3 separate regions of the Homo sapiens genome follow, and regions 1 and 2 are each linked to region 3. The links come from fine-mapping of genetic effects on gene expression. A gene starts in region 3. Each other region holds a variant in brackets. All regions are shown on one strand. Distances are between the middles of the regions.

The links.
Region 1: its variant is fine-mapped to the expression of AKT3 in whole blood (TOPMed, PIP 0.91).
Region 2: its variant is fine-mapped to the expression of AKT3 in lung (TOPMed, PIP 0.95).

Annotation. Positions count from the first base shown.
Region 1 is chr1:243,501,032-243,509,216 of GRCh38, reverse strand. AKT3 (AKT serine/threonine kinase 3) reads left to right here. Exons shown (of 14, transcript NM_005465.7): 14 at 3,883-8,185. The coding sequence ends at 3,968. Among named protein-coding and RNA genes, the nearest start is that of MIR4677, 160 kb to the right of the region's middle. The variant A/C (reference allele first, on the strand shown) is at 4,619.
Region 2 is chr1:243,598,814-243,606,998 of GRCh38, reverse strand. The region is part of intron 8 of AKT3 (AKT serine/threonine kinase 3); the gene reads left to right. Among named protein-coding and RNA genes, the nearest start is that of AKT3-IT1, 190 kb to the left of the region's middle. The variant G/A (reference allele first, on the strand shown) is at 3,380.
Region 3 is chr1:243,846,498-243,854,682 of GRCh38, reverse strand. It overlaps AKT3 (AKT serine/threonine kinase 3), which reads left to right and starts at 4,440. Exons shown (of 14, transcript NM_005465.7): 1 at 4,440-4,643. RefSeq lists an enhancer at 5,031-5,531.

The DNA.
Region 1 (8,185 bases), 350 kb after region 3:
CATCAAGAATGTTTTTCCTGGCATGTCATATTTTACCACTGACAGCACCTCTGTTCTTAAATAACATGTGTCATTTCAGACATGGATCATGCTGTAAAAGCCCTACAACCTTGGTGTCTTTAAATGATAATAGGTTCACTTCTAGATTGAGACAGAGATACCTAGGAAGCCTGTACATTGTAGTAACTTTCAAGATGGTTATCAAAATCCACCTGCAATTGTAGGACCACAAAAGTCTGGCTTTTGTCTAGGCGCAGTGGTGCACACCTGTAATCCCAGCACTTTGGGAGGCCAAGGCGGGTGGATCACTTGAGGTCAGGAGGAGTCTGAGACTAGCCTGGCCAACATGGTGAAACCCCCTCTCTACAAAAAAAAATACAAAAATTAGCCAGACGTGGTGGTGCATTCCTGTGATTCCAGCCACTCGGGAGGCTGAGGCAGGAGGATCGCTTGAACCCGGGAGGCAGAAGCTGCACTGAGCTGAGATCACAACATTGCCCTCCAGTCTGGGTGACAGAGCAAGACTCTGTCTTTTAAAAAAAAAAAAAAAAAAAAAAAAAAGTCTGGCTTTTGTGGGTGTCAGAAATGGGGTGTGGTCCTGCCCTGCTCCTGGGCCCTGGACAGTACGGAAACGAGAGCCCAGCAATGTCATCTGTTTCTGACAGGGCACACCGCAATTGAGGGGTGGGGAGGGCGCTATGGACTTGCTGTGTTTTTCCCTATTCAGGACCTCTGTAGCAAGGAAAGTCAGACGGAAGAGCTCAGCAGAGTATGCCCAGGCAAAGACTAGCATCGACGCATCTGCAGGCACCTCTGTTCAGCAGCCTCTCCTGCTGTCTGTGTGGCTCAGCAGAGCGCAGCGCTCAGCACTGGGGGCCATGGGGCCCTGGGCTTCCTGTCTTAGGGGAGCAGCCTTGATGGTGGTTAACTGCAGCTTCTGGGTTCTTCTAGGGCAACGGGGCAGTATTTTTAGTTTGACAGTTCCTGGATACATCCTAGATTCCCTTAAGGAGCAGATAAAATGAGAATCACTGAAACCTTGAACGGTGATTACATTCAACATAACCTTTTTCTTGCAGCTTTGAATAGTTTAACTGGTAAGAAACCGTTGCAGCTCCCTAAGTGCTAACACACAGAGGTTTTGTTGATAAAAGTCCAGGGTAGTACCATTCGTTAGCAATTGTCTTCCCACTTGCCACCTTGCTTGTATAAAACAGAATACAGTTATTGTTTAGAACAAATCAGCAGTTAGAAAGGCAAAATGTTCCATTTTCTACAAACAGCTGCAGTGACATGCCAGATTGTCCTCACTGGCGTTAATAATGGAACAGATTTGGGAATGTGTCATCTTTCGTTATCGCCATTGATGGTCCTCCTCCTTCCTCTTACAGAAAAAGAGGGTTTCTTTGAGATCTGGTCGCTTTTACTGCCATATAATGCCATTTGTTAAATGTTCTAAGAAAATCAGGCAACTGATGTTCCTTGGATGCAGGGATTCAAGGGATGTAGCAAGTAGAGTTGATCATTGTCTTCTTTTTCCAGATAAGTGTTTTTGAAAAACATAGTTCATGTTCATTATCATCACTATTCCCTATGCACAGCCTCTCACAGCAGGAACTAACTTGTGTACATTGACAGGCTCCGACTCAGAGTCAGCTGCCACTTCCTCCAGCTCCCCTCCCACCGCAGCCCCTGCCCAGGCTCTCAGCTCTTTTAGGGCCATGATCAGATGTTCACGCCTCATTGTTTCCAAGCCTGACAACAGAAAGGGGCAGGAATGATGGAGGGAGATCATTGGCTTTAAAGAATATCAAGGATTGGGGCCCTCAGGGATATCTGTGAAATTTCCTAGATTCAGAATTGTGATGAATGTGTTACTGAAGTGACAGAATGAAGGCTGTCTCTCAATTCTTAGCTGACACCAGCAAGAGTCCCTCCTCTTCCAAAAGGGTGTCTAGCACCTGCCCCTGTTGAGCATCTGGCTAACCTGGGTGCTGAACCTCGCCGGGCTGGAATGAGTCCTGGCCATGGCCCCAGGAGTCCAGGCAGCTCCTGCCCTTCCTGGCTGAGCAGGACAAGCACCAGGCTCCCCACTGCTGTCCAGAGCCAGCTGCAGGTTTGCTGTGCAGAAACACTGAGTAAAATAAAGCTGTTGGTGAGGAAAATTGTTTATTTGAAATGTGATTGGCTCATGTCAGAATCTGAACATTAAGGTTTTAGCTGCCCGTATTCTCTAGAGAGTTTTTATACTCTGGGGCTCAACCACGGGTACACCATCATTCCCAGCTCCTTCCGTTTTTACTGTAGCTAAAAATACTGCTGAAGGTATTTGATCTAAAAGATGTGTGTGACTTGCTTGGTACAAATATTGGAACCAATAACTTTATAAGGAGGTAGAGATTTCCCCAAATCTCAATACCTTCTAGAAATGCTGACTGCAGTTACAGTGGTCTATTTGCAGAAGAAGAGAGGGCCTCCGAGTTCAGTGTCTTACACAGAGCAGGGAGCCACAAATGCTTCTTGATGGATCAGTTCTCACCTAATACGAGGATATCTTCTGGTACATTAGGGGTCAGAAATTTTGGCTAATGCCAGCTTGATCCCATTTCTAGAATCTTCTGCATTAAGAGTGGGATACAGAAAAGAAAAACAGTGATACAAGAATGGAAGTGTTTATTCTTCAGACAAAGGCAGAGCCCCCTCCTCTTCGGAGTGACAGAGTCAGAGCCTCAGTGCAGTGGGATCTGGCCTGTATGCTTTCTTTGTTTACACCCACATCCAGCGGATGCTCCCTGGAGAGGTTAGAATATTCAAAAAAATTGGTAATGTACTTCCTATATGGGTTTGAGGACATCGAATTATTTTGCTTGAAGAGAAAAGGGTTGAGTATTGGAAAGATTCACTGATTTCCATTGCAGGACAGCATATGATTAAACAAGCTTAGAGGCAAGCACGGGGGATTTAAAATGGAGCACCTCCCCCAGGAGACTGTGAGGCCAGGGGGCCCTTGGGACTTTGTTCAAAGTTCTGCGGTCCTTGGGCCTGACGGGTGCTCAGCCCAGAGCAGATGCGTGGGAGCGCATGTTGACTGAGTGGCTGACCACGTGGCCACATACCAGGAAGAGCTTCCAACAGCACAGGACTGTCATCACAGGACATTTATGAGAACAGGGTGCTGATCATCTGTGATCTTTGAAATACAGGAAACCAGGAAAGCTGACAGGAGGAACACTGTGATTGTCAGCGGCCTGTTTTGATGCCTTTCAAGTCTCTTCCATTGTTTCCTGATGAGCTAGGACTCAGATGTTGACATCCTTCCCTCTTTTTCTTTCACTTAGTCCCTTCATGCTAAAGTTTTATCATAGGGAAATTGGGAAAGGTGAGTTAAGCCAGATGCTAGATGTTGAATGAAATTTCATAAGAAGCTTTATTTTGCAGTTGCACTTAAAGCATCACAAAGAAAAAATATAAGCACTTGAAGACATTCGATGATGAATTCTATACAGACTTTGGATGCTGTGGATTTCACTGACTTGCAGTTTTGATATATGTGGTTACATGAAATGAAAGGTTACTGAAGACTGCTCCTTCTTAAAAACTTCTGTTTTCTTCAATACCATTTTTTTCACTGTTTCATTGAGTCTTGAAATTTTGATGTCTTAGAGATGATTCTATAGTATTATTTCTTCATAGACTATGTATTTATGAAAATCAGATGATTTTTGAAGTATAATTACTCTACAGCTTATTGATGAACACAAGTTTATGGGAGCTATTGCCTCTGTTCATCTTTCCTATGTTCAGAGTTTAAAAAACATAGACTAGAGATAATGTTGCAAAAAATGAATGTGTAAAATTAAAATAGATGTTTCCTGCCCACAGATGATGAGGATGGTATGGACTGCATGGACAATGAGAGGCGGCCGCATTTCCCTCAATTTTCCTACTCTGCAAGTGGACGAGAATAAGTCTCTTTCATTCTGCTACTTCACTGTCATCTTCAATTTATTACTGAAAATGATTCCTGGACATCACCAGTCCTAGCTCTTACACATAGCAGGGGCACCTTCCGACATCCCAGACCAGCCAAGGGTCCTCACCCCTCGCCACCTTTCACCCTCATGAAAACACACATACACGCAAATACACTCCAGTTTTTGTTTTTGCATGAAATTGTATCTCAGTCTAAGGTCTCATGCTGTTGCTGCTACTGTCTTACTATTATAGCAACTTTAAGAAGTAATTTTCCAACCTTTGGAAGTCATGAGCCCACCATTGTTCATTTGTGCACCAATTATCATCTTTTGATCTTTTAGTTTTTCCCTCAGTGAAGGCTAAATGAGATACACTGATTCTAGGTACATTTTTTAACTTTCTAGAAGAGAAAAACTAACTAGACTAAGAAGATTTAGTTTATAAATTCAGAACAAGCAATTGTGGAAGGGTGGTGGCGTGCATATGTAAAGCACATCAGATCCGTGCGTGAAGTAGGCATATATCACTAAGCTGTGGCTGGAATTGATTAGGAAGCATTTGGTAGAAGGACTGAACAACTGTTGGGATATATATATATATATATAATTTTTTTTTTTTAAATTCCTGGTGGATACTGTAGAAG[A/C]AGCCCATATCACATGTGGATGTCGAGACTTCACGGGCAATCATGAGCAAGTGAACACTGTTCTACCAAGAACTGAAGGCATATGCACAGTCAAGGTCACTTAAAGGGTCTTATGAAACAATTTGAGCCAGAGAGCATCTTTCCCCTGTGCTTGGAAACCTTTTTTCCTTCTTGACATTTATCACCTCTGATGGCTGAAGAATGTAGACAGGTATAATGATACTGCTTTTCACCAAAATTTCTACACCAAGGTAAACAGGTGTTTGCCTTATTTAATTTTTTACTTTCAGTTCTACGTGAATTAGCTTTTTCTCAGATGTTGAAACTTTGAATGTCCTTTTATGATTTTGTTTATATTGCAGTAGTATTTATTTTTTAGTGATGAGAATTGTATGTCATGTTAGCAAACGCAGCTCCAACTTATATAAAATAGACTTACTGCAGTTACTTTTGACCCATGTGCAAGGATTGTACACGCTGATGAGAATCATGCACTTTTTCTCCTCTGTTAAAAAAAATGATAAGGCTCTGAAATGGAATATATTGGTTAGAATTTGGCTTTGGGAGAAGAGATGCTGCCATTTAACCCCTTGGTACTGAAAATGAGAAAATCCCCAACTATGCATGCCAAGGGGTTAATGAAACAAATAGCTGTTGACGTTTGCTCATTTAAGAATTTGAAACGTTATGATGACCTGGCAACAAAAAGTAATGAAGAAAATTGAGACCTGAGTGAAGATAAGAAATGATCTTTACGTGGCAAAATGAACACATCTTGAGTATTTAGGAAATGGGCAGTGAAGGCTAAGAACCTGGTGTGTTTCTTGGGATCATGGTACATTTATCACTGAATTAAGCCATCAGGGAAAAAACAACAAAAAAAGAGAACACCTCCAGCTTTTCTTTTTCTGTATATACTCATGTCCCCCAGATTCCAACATTTCTCACTGAAAGGGGGCATGTATGCAAACCTCATCTTTCTCCTTCATTAATGATGATCTTCAGATTAAACCCTTTGGTGCTAGGAGCTGACAATTTCCAAAGCAGCCTGTGAAGTCCTAGGGGCTGGGGGCCACTCTTGCGGCAAGCAGAAGGCCATCCTACTCCGCGGAGTGATCATGGAAATGTATTTTAGTTAAACTCTGACAGCTCCCAAACGGAAGACTACAGCATGACGTAGTATTATGATTGCATTGTATGAAAGAGCAAGTGACTTTCTAAGTAGGATGAATCATATTCATATGCAGATGTCTTAGCCTCTTGACGCTGGAAGTGTGGATTTATAGCTATGAAACCACTGCTGGCAGTGGGTGGGCCACTGGGACTGACGGGGGTTAAAGGGCATTTTACTAAGGCAGCTAAGACATATTCAGACATCAACGTTATCCTTCTTTTTCATATTTCTACCTGAGTGAAGTTCATCCTTAGTATTGAGTAGGAAGTTACAGTAAATGGTAGTTCATTCTTACTTACACACATAGCTAATCTTTTTTTTTTCACTTGGAATTATGTTGAATGTTTCATTTTGACAAAAAAGTAGACTAGAAGGTATGTTCTTTAAGTTGTCTTGCATCCATTATATAAGAAAGAAACAGGTGAGAGGAAGAGCAGAAAGCTGAGACTGGCTGATGTTCAGAGCACTTACTCCTCTAGAGGGAAAGCATGACACCGAACACTAAGCACACAGCTTTTTGTTGTTTTGGTTTTTTCTCCCGCAAATCTTAAAGTGATTCCCATGACCTTGGCCAAGGACACTTCTTAAAGATTAATGACTGGCACTGACATTGCCCCAGGCGGGCCACTCCTCACACTGGCTCTCAGTTCCCAGCCATGCCTGGGGCTCAGTCACTTCTATTCCACCCTCTGAGACTCCATTGGTGTCACACAAGGTGTCTTCTTGGCTTTGATTTTGAGAATCCCCTATTTTCACTTCCAGATCTGTCAGCTGCCATGGAGGAATAATAGAAAACCAGAAATGCGTGTAGAGGGAGATTTCTAAAACTTCCCTTGTGTCGCCCATAGTTGTAGTTTTGGGTTCTGGCAGGTGGAACACCCTGAAACCTGGAATCATTCTATGAGAATACAGTTCAGACTTTGCAGACTCCAGCCCATACTAACTGTCATGAAGCTTGACTTCTTGTCATAATGCAGCCATCTTGGAGGAAATTGGCCATTTCTGCTTAGATGGTTGGCAGGGTCGCGCTCAGCTTTGCTTTCTACACTAATTACATAGCATTATTCAAGTATTGTTTTCCATTTCCCATCCCTGATTTCCAGCTTCTTAAAGCTGACTGTTCTTGCAGGGGCCACTTGCTTCTCCTAGAGTACAAAAGTAAGGGCCTTCCTTACTAACTGCAGGGTCTCTCTATTACACCTCAACATACACACTTTGCTGCTACTGTTTGTACTGTCTACAGTAGAATTTCCTTATCTTGCTCCTGGTAGTGCATTACAGGCAAGCATGAAATGTAAAGTATTTATTTAAATAAAAAGAAAACCTCTAAATTGGTAATTGAATTACCTCCCTGTAGCTTTATAGTTTGTGACATTTCTTGACCTTGCTAGTTCTTTCATTAGATCTGCGCAAGATCTAGTCATCTGGTTAAGGATTTTAAGCAGATGCAACTATAAACCCAAGAAACTGTATTACTATTACTGTTGGTCATACTAAACCTGTCTATTTCCTGAAGTATATGACCCACAAGGATGTGGAATAACTAGGAGAAACTGTTTTTGTACACTGTACATCCTTAGTATTTTTACACGTATATGATAGGGATGAACATGATTTTCCTTCGTACAGACAGCTTAAATAAAGCACTATGTCAATCTGCTACTTCTCTGTTTATTGTTGTTGGATGTGGTTCTATAATCCCCCCAAATTAAATCTTCTTTAATGAAAACATGATTTTTAATAGCCCCAGCTGGTATTAACCTACCTTGTATAAAATGTGACAGGAAAATATAGAAATAATTCCTTGTAGCTCACACACACACACATAGGGGATCATTTTTACTTCAGTGAAATGGCAGTAGTGCGGTTGTGCAAACTTTGATGAACGGCTGCTTCTGAGGGGAAACGCTGACCTCTCAGCACTGGATTTAGGATGGATGTACTGTGAAGCCAGGGATGAAGGAGGTCTCAGACCCTGGGGACATTCAGACCCGAATCATCTATACAACACACGGTTTGGACCCAGAATCTGAAGGAATGTAGCTTTTCATTAACGTCTTCCTGATAATGTACTGCTCTGCATATTTCCTTTCTTAGAGTGTATTTCTAACAACATGTCATGGCAAATTAACAAACTTAGACGTGGGTGATGTAGATGGGTAGGATGGCTGGACTGCAGTCTGACTTCACGTTGAATCATTCTGGATGGGGCCTTTTTCTGATTTTACCTCATAAAGCTACTATTGTAGAAACTTGGCTTTGCTCCTGTGACGAAGCCAGACAGAGGAATGGCTTTTGGGACCAGAGTGAGTCAAGCATGTATGTGTATGTCACACGGCCAAATTTGAGGGCATTCTCACATGTGCTCTTCTCTCAAAACCACTGGGGTTGAC
Region 2 (8,185 bases), 250 kb after region 3:
TTCTGCACACCAGCAGGACCAACACCACATGGAAGCTGCCAATGCTTGGGGCTTGCACCCTCTGAAGCAATGGCCTGAGCTGTACATTGGTCCCTTTTAGCCACAGCTGGGACTGAAGCAGTTGGGATGCAGGGCACCATGTCCCAAGGCTGCACAGAGCCGGGTTGGGGGGCCCTGCTTTTGGGCCCTGGCCCTGGCCCACAAAACTGTTTTTCCCTCCTAGGCCTCTGGGCCTATGATGGGAGGGGCTGCTGCAAAGGTCTCTGAAATGCCCTGAAGACATTTTCTCCTTTGTCTTGGTGATTAACATCTGGCTCCTTGTTACTTATGCCAACTTTTGCAGTGGGCTTGAATTTCTCCCCACAAAATGGGTTTTTCTTTTCTATTGTATTGTCAGGCTGCAAATTTTGCAAACTTTTCTTCTCCGCGTTCTCTTCAATGCTTTGCCACTTAGAAATTTCCTCCACCAGATACCCCCAAATCATCTCCTTCAAGTTCAAAGTTCCTTAGATCTCTAGGGCAGGGGCAAAATGCCACCATTCTCTTTGGTAAAGCATAGCAAGAGTCACCTTTACTCCACTTACCAGTAAGTTCCTCGTCTTCATCTGAGGCCACCTCAGCCTGGACTTTATTGTCCATATCACTGTCAGCATTTTGGTCAAAGCTATTCAACAAGTCTCTAGGAAGTTCCAAACTTTCTCACGTTTTTCTGTCTTCTTTTGAGCCCTCCATACTGTTCCAGCCTTGCCTGTTACCTGGTTGGAAAGCTGTTTTTACATTTTTGGGTATCTTTACAGCAGCACCACACTCTCTGTGGTACCAATGTACTGTATTAGTCCATTCTCTGTTCTCATGCTGCTGTGAACTGCCCGAGACTGGGTAATTTATAAAGGAAAGAGGTTTAATTGACTCAGTTCTGCAGGGCTGGGGAGACCTTAGGAAACCTACAATCGTGGTGAAAGGGGAAGCAAACATGTCCTTCTTCACATAGGAGCAGGAGAGAGAAGTGCTAAGCAAAGGAGGAAAAGCCCCTTATAAAACCATCAGATTTCATCAGAACTCACTCACTATCAGCAGAACAGCATGGAGATAACCAGCCCTGTGATTCAATTACCTTCCAGTGGATCCCTCCCACAACACATTGGGATTATGGGAACTACAGTTCAAGATGAGATTTGGGTGGGAACACAGCCAAACCATATCTGCCTACCAGCAAGTTTCTCAGGCCATATCCCAGTTGTTAAGTAATGCATGACTGTATTTGGAGCACTAAAAATTTTTGATGAAAGTGAATTGTGAAAGAAATGTTGGCTGTGAAAAATCAGCCCTAACTTCTTACGGTCGTATTGGTACAATGGAATTTCATCATAGTTGCATGTAATTTATATGAATTCAAAGAAGTGGGCTCAATAAGATATAGCTGAGATAGACAAGTTGATTTAAATGATGTGATTATTCTGCTCTTTTTCTCAATTTCTCAATGAGTGTATTTACAGAGTGACCTTAGGATGAGAGATATAAATTTGCTATTCTTTACTCCTTGTTACTTCCTACTTTCCATGCATAGAGCTTCATGGAATATAAACTCTGGTGTTTTAAAATACAAAACTTACATAAAATGTCATTGAGTGCATTGTAACTGCAGGTGTTCATTTAAAGAAACTATTTTCTGGCCAGGCCTGGTGGCTCATGCCTGTAATTCTGGTGCTTTGGGCAGCTGAGATAGGAGGATTGCTTGAGGCCAGGAGTTTGAGACCAGCCTGGCGAACATGGTGAGATCCCGTGTCAAAAAAAAAAAAAAGTTAGCCATGTATGGTGATGTGTACCTGTAGTCCTAGTAAATTAATCAGGAAAGCTGAGGTGGGAAGTTCACTTGAGCCGAGGAACTCAGGGTTATAGTGAGCCATGGTTGTGCTACTGCACTCCAGCGTGGGCAACAGAGTGAGACCCTGTCTCTAAAGAAAATAAAAGAAAAAAGACTATATTATTGTACCAAAGATAGAAAACTGTCCTGGGTTTAACTATGTCGAGAGATGACAGTATGTTGGTCTCCAGTGTAATACCGTTCTAAGGAATGTTTGGGAGTGATTTGATTATTTTTGATACCTTATGGATTAACTTTATAATCTAGTACATTATCATTCATCTATTAAATAATGAGCAACTTCTGTGGGCTAGACCTCAGAAGATTCATAAATAAGGAAAACATACTATTTTTCCTTTGATGAGTGACTTACTGGGGAGATAGATGAGAAAATACTTGTATACACTGCAGTGACATGGTTGCTCTGATAATACTGGTTACTGTGCATGGAGAGAATGAGCACTTTAATGAACCTGAGGAGCAGAGGAAAGGAAAGCAAAGGGTGCCAGAGTAGGAAACTCTTCTTAAAAAGTGGTTGCTAGGCTAAGACGTAAGAATAACTATACATTATATCACTAAGGTTGGGAAGGAGAGCATTCCTACACAGGTAAAATGGCATGTGTAGAGTACACAGGAGCAGACAGGTTCCCCCACCCACCGAATATAGCACAGTGTGGATAATGCATAGAGTTCTGCAGAGGAAAGCCAGAGAGTCTGCACAGGTAGTCAGAATCACATTAAGACAGATCTTCACTCTCAAGTCATTTAGATGAAGGCAGTGGAGCATCATGGAAGAATTTCTTTGGGGGAAATGTTTAGAAAGAATACTTGGCAGTATAGAGGTTGAAGTAGAGAGGACAAAAGTGGAAGCAAGGAAAATACTTGGGAGGTTGCTGCAGTTAGAAGGTTTTCAGTAATTCACTTATAAAAATGATAAGGTTGTCGGATGTGGTGGCTCATGCTTGGAATCTCAGCACTATGGGAGGCTGAGGTGGGTGGATCACCTGAGGCCAGGAGTTTGAGACCAGCCTGACCAACATGGAGAAACCCCGTCTGTACTAAAAATACAAAATTAGCCAGGCCTGGTGGCGCATGCCTGTAATCCCAGCTACTTGGGAGGCTGAGGCAGGAGAATTGCTTGAACCTGGGAGGTGGAGATTGCAGTGAGCCTAGATTGCACCATTGTGCTCCAGCCTGGGCAACAAGAGCAAAACTCCATCTCAAAAAAAAAAAAAAAAAAGATTATTAATTGAAGCAGTGTTAGAAGGAAGCAAATTCTAGTAATATTTAGTTATTAGAATCACCAGGATTTAATGAATAAATATGCAGAGAAGTATCATATGATTTCCTGTTTGCTGCTTGGGGAATTGTGGATACTGGAGTATTTATAAAAATAGAAAACACAGGGAGAAGAATGAGTTCTTAAGCAGATCATGCTATATTTGAGGCACCTAGTGTGGCAGCCAAGGAGTGGGGAGAGTTAAATCAGAGATACAAATAGGCATCATGAGCAGT[G/A]TTAAAACCCAGGAAGTGAGGAAATATCCAATGTGAGGAAAGTATGTACAGTTAGAACATCAGTGGCCAAGGATGGTGCCTGGAAATGCCAGAGTAAGGCATGCTGTAGACACAGCTGTAGATGCAGTGAGACTAGTGCACAGGTGTAGAGGCAGAGAGAAGCCTAAGGAGGATCCTGGGCAGGAGGAGCCAGACAAGAGAAGCCTTAGAAGTTAAGGAGAGATTAGGTACAACAGAGTATATTAAATACTGTACAATGATAACTGAGAATTGTCCATTGGATTTGCCATCTAATAGTTCCTATGGAGACTACCAGGGATTCTTCCTTTTCTGGTTTGGTACAAGGTATGCACCTTGGCTGTAGTACAGAATGTAAAAGGGTTGGTTTGGAGCCCAGTAGAACAAGGTTGTAAGAGTGAGTTCAGTGCAATTTCAGTGGGGCATTTGTAGAACTGATTGTAAAATCTCTCTAATAATATGACCAATCACACTGCTAATATATCCAGGCAGCTCTCTTTTTATTCCTTAAATGTTACTAAATTTACATGAGAAGCAGAAAAATATCCTGGGAGAATAAAGTAGACAAAATTGACTAAGGAGGTGTTTTTGTTTTCTTTGGTTTAGGAAGTCTCTACTTAGGACTTGTTTCCAAAATCTTACTCATAGCTTCATTTATTTCAGGCTTATTTGTTGGACCTCTGCAAATCTCTCTCAAGTCTGAAGTTTCCTGAAGTTAAAGATTCATTAGGGGAGTAAAGGAAAATCATTGTGTAGAAATGCTATTCATCTGATAAATTCTTCACATTCCTCTATTTTCTTTATGTAGGTTGTAATGAAGCTAACAGTTTCAGTTATGTACTACTATTTTTGTCCATACTTAGTTCATTGTAAACTCTATATTAATTTCTTTGATAACATGTATTTGATTTTTTTGCAATACGGCTTTCAGGTTCTTGCCATTCTTGAGATTCTCATGCTTATTCAGATTTCTCATTTGGCTGGCATTTTGTTATCAGTGAACCAAAATTATCTCATTTTAAATTCACATAAGACAAAAGCACCAGTAGTCAGTATTCTAGTTCTCCTTACTAATTTACGGAGGTGTGATCTGGGTGATTTTTAAATTAATTTAATTATCATTTCATATTCATAGTGATGATTTTTAAAATTTTACAAAGTTTTCAGGTATATAAACATCTTTATTGTCAGGTGTCTGACAAGCTAATTTCTTTGCTAACTATTTTAGTTATTAATATATTATGTAGGTTGTATCAGAATTTTGTTTTTCACCCAATGCTTTTTCAAAATTCCCAAGTCAAGAAGGATGCATTACAATGTTTACATTAGCATCTAAAGGCAATGTAAAGTCGGGAAGCATTTTTAGTATATAATTTCATAATTCAAAGACATTTTTAAAAAATGAATGGTTAAACCAGTATCTCACTGCATTAAATGTAATTGAATGCATTGAATTTAGTTATTAGGAGATGTTATTACAAGCCTCAACATGTAACATGCTTGCTTACAAATCTAAAATCTCAGATCAAGTGGCTGGAACTGCAGGGGCCTGCCAGGCATCTGGGTATTTACATGATTCCTTTCCATGTGGTTATGGCAGAGCATGGCCATTTCAAGGTAGTCAAACTTCTTACACAAAGGCTGGCTTACCACAGAGTGGGTATTTCAAGGGAGGGAAAACAGAAGAAGCAACATATGTATAATTGGAAACCCTGAGGAGGAAAAAGAGGGCAGTGACACAAAACAGTATTTAAATATCAAAAACTATAATCTGAAAACATACTTACAGGCTTTTGTGTTCTCCATTTTTCACTTAGCATAATACTTTTAAAATTTATAGATACTGTTCCATATATCAGTAGTTTGTTTCTTTTTATGGCTTTGCTCCGTTGTGTGATGTACAGTCATATGTTTATATAGTTGCCCCTGGATAGACGTTTGGGTTCTTTACATTTTGGGCCTATTAGAATAAAAGCTCGTGAATATTCCAGTACAAATCTGTGTGTGAATATATATTTTTAATCTTCTTGGGTAAATACATAGAAATGCAATTTCTGTGTCATTTGTTATGATCAACTTCATTAAAAACTGCAGACTCTTTTCAAAATCAGCCATACCATTTTGCATTCCCAGGATGTTACTTGACAACATCACCACACTTGGCATGGTAGTCTTTTTAAATTTTACTCATTCTGGTGGATGTATAGTGGTATTTTTTAGCTTCAATTTGAATTTCTCAAATAACTAATGATATTGAACTTCTTTTCTTATTCTGATTTGCCATTTATACATCATCTTTTTTGAAGTATCTTAAAATCTTTTGTCTGTTTTAAAAATTAGGTTGTTGTCTTAATATTGAGTTGTCAGATTTATTTATTTCATGTAAGGGCTTTATCATATATATATTTTATAAATATTTTCTCCCATTTTATAGTTTGTCTTTTCATTTCATAATGGGAAATTGTTCCAAAATACACTTTTGTTGTAATCTATTGTAATCAGCATTTTAATGCATAGTTAGCATTCAGTAAAATTAATCAATTTTGACTGTACAATTTAGTGAGTTTTGACAGCTGTATAAAGCAGTTTCCCATCACCACAATCATGATCTAGAATGTTTCTTTCACAACAGAGCCTCGCATGTCTCTTTAAAGTCAATTCTCTCCCCTCACTCTCACCCTGAAAACCACTGATAGGCTTTCCAACCAGTATGAAGGGCAGACTTCTAAATTAGAGGAAACACAATTCATTGATTATTTTCTCTTATGATTTGTACATTTTGTTTTTAAAACATCTTTTTCTAACTGAAGTTTGTTAAGATTTTTTTCTAAAGTCAAAGCTAGACCTGTTGGGTGGTGGCAGGTCGGGGAGATTTTCTTTTATGCTTTCTTCTAGAAGTGTTAATAGTTTTAGCTCTTGCATTTAGGTCTATGAGCCATTTCAAGTTAATTTTAATGTATACTGCTACATAAGGGTCATGTTTCATTTGTTTCTTGCAAAGTGATATCTAACTGTTCCAGCATATTTGTTGAAAAGACTGTCTTTCTCCCATTGAATGATTTGGTACCCTTGTCAAAAATCAGTCATATATGTGTGGGTCGATTTCTGGACTCTGCATTCTGTTGTATTGGTCTATATCTATCCTGAAACCTATACCACACTGTCTTCACTATGCCACACACTTACTTTAGAATAAGTGTTAAAATCAGGCAGCTTGAATCTTTCAATTTTGATATTCTTTTTAAATTTGGTTTTGCTATCCAATTTCCTTTGCATTTCCACATAAATTATAGAGTAAGCTTGTTGAATTCTACATAAAAGCCTCCTGGATTTTAATTGTGATTGTGTTAAATCTGTTGATCAATTTGGGGAGAATTGACAGTTTCACAGTGTTGTCTTCTGATTCATAAATATGGTATATGTTTTCCCATTATTTAAGTCTTTAATTTCTTTCAACAATATTATGTAGTTTTTAGTGTACAGGTCTTGAAAGTTTTAAAAATTTATCCTTAGGGATACTTTATAATTATTTTATGTTTTTAAGTTATAAATGGTTTATCAGTCATTATTAAAAATTTCAATTTGTAGTTGATTCTTGCTAATATATAGACATACAGTTGATGTTTACTTATTAGCCATACTAATATTAGTTTTAGTAGTCTTTTATTGTAAATATATTGGATTTCTCTATGTAGATGATCATGTCAGGTGAGAACAAAGACAGTTTTACTGCTATTTTCTAATATGTGTACATTTCCTTGCCTTATTAAACTATCCAGGATGTTTAGAACAGTGTTAAAGAGCAGGATAAGAGCAAATATCCTTGCTTTATACCTAATTTTAGGGCAGAAGCATTCATACTGTCACCATTAACCATGTTGTTAGCTGTAGATTTTTCGTAGATGCTCTTTATTAAAAGTTGAAGAATTTCTATTAGTAATTTGATGAGTTTAAATAATCTTAGTTTGATTAGCTCTGCTTCTTTGTTCTTATGGTGGTAGCTTTAGGGTTTAGAATATGTATCTTTTCTCATCACGGTAGACTTTCAAACAATATGCTGTGTCACTTTACCTGTACTGTAAGAACCTTATAACAGCATACGTCTATTTTCTTACCTTCTATCTGAACCTTAAAAGGCATACATCTGTTTCCCTGCCTTCTGTCTTTTGTGCAGTTGTTCTCAGACATTTTACTTCCATGTATTTTTTAACCTTTACAATACACTGTTTTTGCCTTAAGCAATTATCTTTAAAATAATTTTTAATAGAAAAAATGTTTTATATTCATAAAGTAGTCATTTTAAGTGTTCTCTTTTCCTTTGTGTTGGTATACATTTTCATCTATTACATTTTCCTTTTGCATAAAAACTTCCTTTAGCATTTGTTTTTGTAGTGCAGGTCTGATAGCCGTAACTTTTGTTAGCTTTTATTTGTGTGAGAAAATCTGCATTTTGTCTTAAGATGTTTCCCTTTCTTTAAAACAGTTTTGCTGAGTTAATAACAAATTATAAATAATTTGTACATATTTAAAGTGTACAATCTGATAACTTTTGACCCATGAAATCATCACCACGATAAAAATAACATCCCCACAAATGTTCTCCTATACAGGAGATTTTAGGAGGAAAGGTGCATTTGAACTAAATCTTCAAGAACAGGTATGTTCCCCAAATAAGATTAGCTCATTCAATCAAAAGTATGTATTAAATGCTTACTGCGTTCGCTAGGATGAATAAAACAGTCATGATTTCTAGAAGGAGATGCATATTATAAAATAATAAAACAAAAT
Region 3 (8,185 bases):
ACCCAGATTCACACAGCACCAGATTAGTGATATATCTGGCCCTTGGCTATGCTCATATGTTCTTGTACAGGCACCTGGCCTGTGCCTTAAGAAAGACATCAGGACTTTGGGAGGCTGAGGTGGGCGGATCACGAGGTCAGGAGATCGAGACCATCCTGGCCAACATGGGGAAACCCCATCTCTACTAAAAATACAAAAATTAGCTGGGCGTGGTGGCAGGCGCCTGTAATCCCAGCTACTCGGGAGGCTGAAGCAGGAGAATCACTTGAACCCGAGAGGTGGAGTTGCAGTGAGCCGAGATCATGCCACTGCACTCCAGCCTGGTGACAGAGCCAGACTCTGTCTAAAAAAAAAAAAAAAAACAGAAAAACAGACAGACAGACAGACAGACATCAGGGAAAGGGAGAAAAAGACAATTAGTACTGATAACTATTGTAATGAACTGTGTGCCTTAGTCAGTTTGGGATGCTGTAAGAAAAATATCACAGATTGGGAGGCTTAACCAACAGAAATTTAAGCTATACTCCTTTAGAAATTGTTCTATTAATCATCTAGAATATATTCACTAATTACAGCTGTAGACTTAACGTGGTTATTTCAGAACCAACTGTGGCAGAGAGTGCCAATATAGATTTTTGTATTTGTTTGTAGCAGCTATTGTTAGTTTAACATAAATATATTCACATTTATGGTAAAGGAATCTTAGCTTGCTGACCACTCACTGTGTTTTAGATACTAATATTTCATAAAATTTAATTCACATAAGTTGTTGAAGTAGTTGTAACTGCCATTTCACAAATAAGGAAATATAAGGCTTAGAAAAATTAAGTAACTTGCCTGAGATGAGACAAACTCTGCAGAGAGAGGATTTGAACTCTGGTCTGCAAGTCTCCAAAGCACTTTTATGTTCTTTCCAATAAATCACGTTACATCCCAAGAGGAAAATACTATATAAACTGTACATAGTACACAGATTTATTAGAGCCGTCATTAGAACATTAGAACATGTATTTCTTCCACAAACAGGTATTCTGTGTCTGCTTTGTTCCATGCCCTCTCCTAGGATGACACACCCTTTCTATTAAGACAGAAGAGCAGTAACTTAATTTTTGTTATGTGATGCCCTGGTCTGAATTTTTGTGTTTCCCCAAATTCATAGATTGAAATCCTAACTTCCAAAGTGTGTTAGTAGATGGGGCCTTTGGGAGGTGATTAAGTCATGAGGGTTTGAGCCCTCAAGAATGGGATTAGTGCCCTTATAAAAGAGGCTCAAGATGGCTGGGAACATTAACTCATGCTGGTAGTCTCAGCTACTCAGGAGGCTGAGGCAGGAGGGTTGCCTGAGCCTAGGAGTTCCAGGCTACAGTGAGCTATGATCATGCCACTGCACTCCAGTCTGGGTGACAGAATGAGACACTGTCTCTAAAAAAAAAAAAAAAAAAAAAAAAAAAAAAAAAAAAAAAAACAAAGAAAAAGAAAAAGAGGTCCAAGAGAGTTCCCTCACTCTTTCTAAAATGTGAAGACACAGCAAGAAGTCACCACCTACAAACCAGGAAACGGAACCCTCTTTAGACACCAAATCTGCTGGTGCCATGATCTTGGACTTCCCAGCCTCCAGAACTGTTAGAAATAAATTTCTGTTCTTTATAAGCTACCTAGTTGATGGTATTTTGTTATAGCAGCCTGAATGGACTAAGACATTAGATGCTCTGAAATTCTAAATATCCTTCCAGTTTTAGTTACTCCCAAGAAATGGGGGAAGTACCAAGAAATAGCTCAGTATCAAACTTAGTCATTGGTAGTAAAGAAGAATGAACATTTTTCTTAAAATGAATAAATAACTAATACTGAGAAATGTTAATCTTAAGAATATTTGGTGTAATAAAGAATGAAGGCTTTCTTTGCAAAATTTAGGAGGGACATTCCCAGGGATGAACATGCTGGCTGCACTCCATATTACTGGATGTGATAACAAAATAGAGAAGAAATCTGCCACACACTCTGTATGGAGTACCGACATACCACAATCGGCAGATTCTACCAAATTCATACCGGCATAGTCTAAGAGAAAGAACAACGTTATTTAAATAAATAATATCCCTAATCAATAGTAATTCAATAACAAAATCAAACATGCTTTTATTATGGAAACTTATGAAACTACTATAGTCCACAAGCAAAAATTGAACAGAAATAAAAACTTATAATTCTTCAAATACATGAAGCCGAGAGTATATAATCCATTCTCACATACTGAATTTTAGGGTTTAATCCACCTAAGATTTAATGCAATCTGACCAGACTGGGAGAAATATTTTGAGGTAGTATGGCTCATAAGACACATTCAGTTCTTGTAAATATATTGATGTTAAATTTGGGAACAAATGAACATCTCACTGATAAGAGATATCTAGTAATTCAGTAATTCCGGATACTCTGACTCTCAAAAGTTAAGTATTTAAAGTTTCAGACACTCTTTTTAGTGCTGGTGTCATAAGGGACTATTTTCTTAAAAATAAAAAGCAAGTTGGGGTACTATGGAATAAAAATATGACCTATTTTTGTGTTTTACAGCAAGAAACCTGTAACCCAATAATTTTACCAATAGTGACTGTGAGAGGTCTGATAATTATGGGAATACATTATGTATATTTTATAGATACAACGAAAATAGGACAAAGTCTGTTTATTCATCAGCTCATAGCATGCTGGGAAATATGGGAAAAGGGGAAAGGCATGGTGCAGGACTTTCTCTCAGACGGACTGTGTTATCTTAAAATGGCAAATTTTGCTCCAGGGTGGTCAGGGAGACAAGTTTCCCTTACAAACGGAGAAAACTGACTTTTTTAAAAAACCCTTTTATTTGGTTTCCTACTCCTGTCCACAATCCCAACAGATGCACAGTTCATAAAAGATGTGAACCTGGAAGTATAAATATTAATACCACACAGTACATAAATACCAGGGGGCTACAGTATAAGAAAATGACTACCATAAGAGAGTTGTCAAGACATAGAAAAGCAGAGAATGAAGTGCATGTCAGGAGGAGGAACTCTTCTGCAGAAAGAAGCCACAGACATTAACAAAAATGTTGCAGTGGGAGAAAGTAACAGGTACATCAACAAGGCTAGAGCCACGTGGCGGGATAATAGGGATGCTGCCCAGGTGTTTCCAGAAGCGATAAAACTTGTAAACTTTTATAATTTTCTGAAGTGCGCTGCATGGTAAAATATGGTCATTGTGCAAAAAAGTTGTCCCCAATGCAGTCTCAGGAGTCACTGACTTCAAAATAAAGAAACGGTCTCTTCGTAGTAAATGTAGTACCTCGTGGCTTTCCCAAAGTCATTGAAAACGAATATCCCTAAAAAGGGTGTGATTTCAAGAGTGAATTACGATCCGCCCGCAATCTGTGTACCGTGTGTGGACGAATGCTTGCAGCGAGCGGTGCGGAAGGCTGTTCAGAGAGGTGTTTTTGGTCTGCCGTGGTCTCCTGGGATAGTCAGGAATGATTCTTGCTACGGGCTGACCCGGGTTCCCTCTTCCCCGAGGTGCAGGGGGTGGGGTCGGCTTCTGGACTGCTCCGCGCTCTCCGGTCCCTACCTCATTGGGCACCGCCCACTTCGTGGGCTTCCAGGTGCGAGCCCTCGCGCCGGGCCCATCTCCCCAAGGGGCCGCGGCGGACTGGAGGAGACGCCCGGGGCCTGGCGGCGCGCGCGTCCGCGGCCAGGGCGGGTGGGCGGATGCGCCGAGGAAGCGGCTGGGCGAGGAGCCTCCGCTCCCGGGCCTCGGGTGCCCGCCAAGGGCCACGCGGGCGAGGGGGAAACCCAGAACTTCCCGCCCGGGAGCGACTGCCCCCGCTCCCGGCTCTGGCTGGCTAGGGGGATGTTCTCGCGAGAGGAGAGGGGGCGCGGGGCACCGCTGGTTTGGGGGCGCGGGGAAGCCTGAGGACGAGGGCCGGGCAGGGAGGGGAGCAGAGGCGGCGGGCAGGGCCGGGGACGCGGGGAAGCCGCTCCCGCCAGTCGCCGAGAGCCAGCCCCTGACGTCAGGAGTTTTCCTCAAAGTCAACAACAAGCCCCGCGGCGACGGCGAGAACCGATCGGCGGCGGCCCCGAGCGGGAGGAAGGAGGGGGCGGGGAGGCGGCGGGGGGTCCCCTCAGCGAGGCGCAGCCCGGGAGGAGGCCGCAGAACCCCTCCCCGCGCCGGGCGCGCCCCGGGGCCCAGAGCCGCCGCCCCGCCGGCGTGACCCGGCCCCCGCCCGAGCGGTGTTTTCTGGTGATGAATTTGTAGCCGATATCCGATTCCCATGTAGAGTCTCCGCCTCCTCCTCTCCCCGCCGCCGCCCTCTCTCCTCCCTCCCCCTCCCGCCGCCGCCGCCGCCGCCGCCGCCTCCCGCTCCAGCTCCGCGGCCCGGCCCGGCCGGCTCCCTCCCTCCCTCCCCTGCAGCCCTTCGCTTGCCCTCCCGCCGGCCGCACCGGGCTCCAGGAGGCCAGAGGCTCTGTGGGGTGGGGGGAGGACAGGAGGGGAGGAGGAGGGAGGGGGGACCCCCGAGTCGCCCCCTCTCCTCCCCCCGCCCCCCCCCGGCTCCATCCTCCGCCGCCGCCCGAGCAGCTGCGGGGCCGCCACCGCCGCCGCCGCCGTTGCAGGTAACAGCCACCGCCCCCAACTCTAGCCCCCTCCCCGCCTGGCCTCCACTCCCTCCGGGCCCCGGGCCCCGGTCCGCCCTCCCTGCCTCCCTCAGGCGGGGGATGGCGGCGGGGTGGGGTGAGGCGGGGGCTTCTGGGTTGTCACCGCGCCGGGGGCGTGGGCGGGGGCTGGGTCACCGGAGGCTTCGGGTGTGGGTGTGGAGGCCGGGGGATGCCCAGCGCGGTTGACACCGACACCCCCCGCTTTCCGGGGAAAGCTGGGGGGCGGCGGTGCGCAGCGGGCCGGGGGAGGGGTGTTCCCGGCCTAGCGGTACCGTCTGTGTCTGGGCTGCCCCGGCCCGGCGCCTGCTGTCTGCGCAACTCTCGCTCCTTCCCCTCGCCCCTCCCCGCCCGGGCCGCGCGGCGTGGGGAGGGGGCGCCCGCCTGGACCGGGGGCGGCGGCGAGGTTATATAACGCGTGGAGCGCCGGTGTCAGTGTGTTTGGGTTGGGGGGAGGGAGCCGTCTGCCGCGCGCCCTGGCGCTGAGGCTGTCTGCGCGTGGGGTGGGGTGAAGGCGAGGATGCACAGGCGTCCCCGGGGTCTCCTTCCTTCCCCCACCCTTCCCCGCCACTGGCGCGCAGGAAAAGACGGCACTGGTGGGGTGGGGGGGGGGGTGTGTGTGTGGGAGGTGGGTAACGTGCTTGTCTGTGTTTTTAATAGTAGTGGGGTTTTGATCCGCTTGGGAGTTGTGTGCTAAGAATAGAAATGTGCGGAAGATGCTGGGTTTGGCTGATCCAGTGATGCTGTCGCTGCTGGCGGCGGCGGCAGCTCTGGCTGCAAGTAAACAGACCAGCCTCTTCCTTGTCCACCTCCTCCGGCGCATCGGTCCGCATCAGCCATGATGCCGGTGGGGCCCTTCAGAGCCCAAAGTTGAAGCCTAGCTGGTTGCTGTGTTGACCCTGACGCCGAGGCGGGGTCACCATCCCTTGTTTGGGATTTCCCGGGAATCTACAGTTAGCCTAGAGATAAAGAATCTCGTTGGGGCCAGGTTTTTCCAATACCGGTATTTACTGTTTATGTTCTGAAAGCAGAGGAAATGCTTACCCACAAGTCAAAGCTGGGATGCTCACATTTCTTCCATCAAAATAATGTTGTTATGAAAATAAAACCAACTCATTTCACCAATGTGGCATTTTGGTTGAAAGCCTGGTAGTTTGCAATTGATGAAGTTTCCAAATAGAAAGTCAACAGTGAAACCTATGCATCTATATTGGGTAATTTCTAGCCATAATAAAGTGTTCACACTTTGATTTTAGTTGAGGCTAAAGTAAAAAATAATGGCTTTTTGTAGTTAATACATTGGCAGTTGTCTCAACAGTTTAGACATGTGTTCCGTATTTGGTAAAGCATGGTCATATATGTCTTTTAGTAGAACTATACATCACTAGGCAACCACTGGGTTTTGTCAGTGGTTGAAGCTGACAAATGAGTGAAACTCATTGGTTTAGGTTATGTATTTACTTAGGAAAACGAAGGTGGAAGAGTCTAATAAAGATGGTGTAGGAAATGAAGATTAGTCTTCAGAACTTGAGTATCACTTGCAAAATATGTATAAACGAATACAAACATTCCGGGGGTGGTTGTCTAAAACATGAAAATATTTTATAATTAAAATAGCAACTTATTACTAAGTTACTAGTTTTCCAAGGTTTATGACTTAATGCACAATTATATGCAAGATATATATCCGGACTGTAATTGTTTTCCTTTTGCCAGTACATTATCTTGACTTGGAAAGTTTACCAAGGAGATAGTACTTGAAAGTTTACAGGGAGATGGTACTTGAAGATCTTTTTGTTTTCCTTACTAGGGTTGACCCCAATATCTTTGATTGGCTTGAGGTTCCAGTTTTAAAGTGAGGGAGGACAAATATTACATGAATGAGACTGTTGAAATTTAGATGAATGTAGGGTTTTAGTTTTCAGTTGTGTATTTGCATTGTGGTTTTGCAGCATGTTTTCTTACAGCGTTTTAAAAATAGTCCAAAGTAATCCTGCAAAAATTGTGAAATTATTATTTGTATTCATTTGGTTTTCTTTCCATAATTATTACTGGAGTGAATTGTTTTCCAATTTAAAATTAATTTTTGGCTTAATAATCTTGACATCGACTCTAAATTGTATATGTCAGAGTACTTTAAGGTTTTGCTTTGGACTTTTTAAAAATTAATTTCATAGCTGTAAAATATTTTAAATAAGATTATATTTAACAAATACTGGAGTGTGAACTGTGTGCTGGTTTAATTAAAAACTTTTAATATTTACATTTCATTCAGAAAATCACTGTCAGAAGGAATCTGTTTTCAGAATCACTGCAAATCTAAATAAACGTGTTGATTAAACTTACTAGGGAACAAATGGACTTAGCATAGAGACTTGTGGAAAGTAAGGACTTATTTTTTAAGCTGTAGCTTTTGATGTAAACATCAGAAATTTTCTCATAAAAATTCAGTGGAAATTTCCAGCTATCTGGGTTTCTTTAAAATGAGGAACCTGTTTTACAAATTGATTTTGTAGAAGTTTAGCCTTTACTTAAACTTTGTGTATTTTCGTGAAAAGATAGCTATGTTTTCTTTTGTTATTATATCTTTTAGTTCAAGAATTTGTCCTTGGGAAGGTAAGGCAATCACTGTTAACAACTTGTTAGTTGGATGCTTAGCATGATTTGATAGGAGCTTGTCTTTATAGTGTGATTAAGTTTTGAAGTGTTAAAAAGAAAAATTTAAAACTATCTTAGATTTGAGCAACAAAATGCAAGAACTGAAAAACCATTTTCATTTTGAGCAAATCAGTCTTGTGATCTGACTGGCATTTTTATTTTTAAGTTAATATGCATTAATAATACAATTAATTTTTGTTAGAAGATTTGTGTTACTCCAGGTTTCAGCATGTGCATCAGTATTTTAAATCCTGGTCACACAGCATACCTTCTTTTGGAAAGATAGTCCTGAATCTTCCGACAACAAATACTTTGTCCTGATCTTTTACATGGGATAGGATTAGATTCAGTTTAGAGTTAATGCTAACCAATGCCTGGTAAGCAGTTGCCATGTGCCAGGCACTGTTCTATGTGCTTTACCTGTATTCATTTAATCTTTCAAACAACCCCTGCTACACTTTTGAAAGTGATTTTCACATAAGAAAAACTTATTGTGGCATTCTAAAAATACCTTTTATTTAAACTTTCCTAATTCTGCAACACTTCTAGTGTTTTTCTTGTTTGTACCTATTATTACAGTTAACAGTGATAATTCTAAATTTGCAAAATTTGGTACAATAATTTCCATAGCATCAAGTTAATAAAAGTGTATTGACTGGCCCATTAACATCACCTTTCATTTGTTTAAAATGCCAAATTAAATAACTCAAATGTTTACAGATTTTATTATAGCATCATAGTCTTTAATCAAATTAGATGTAAACTCATTTTCTCTGCCAAGTAATCTTTGAATACTAATGGGTAGATAAAATTAATATATGCTTCTTGACTTGTTGATGTGTTTT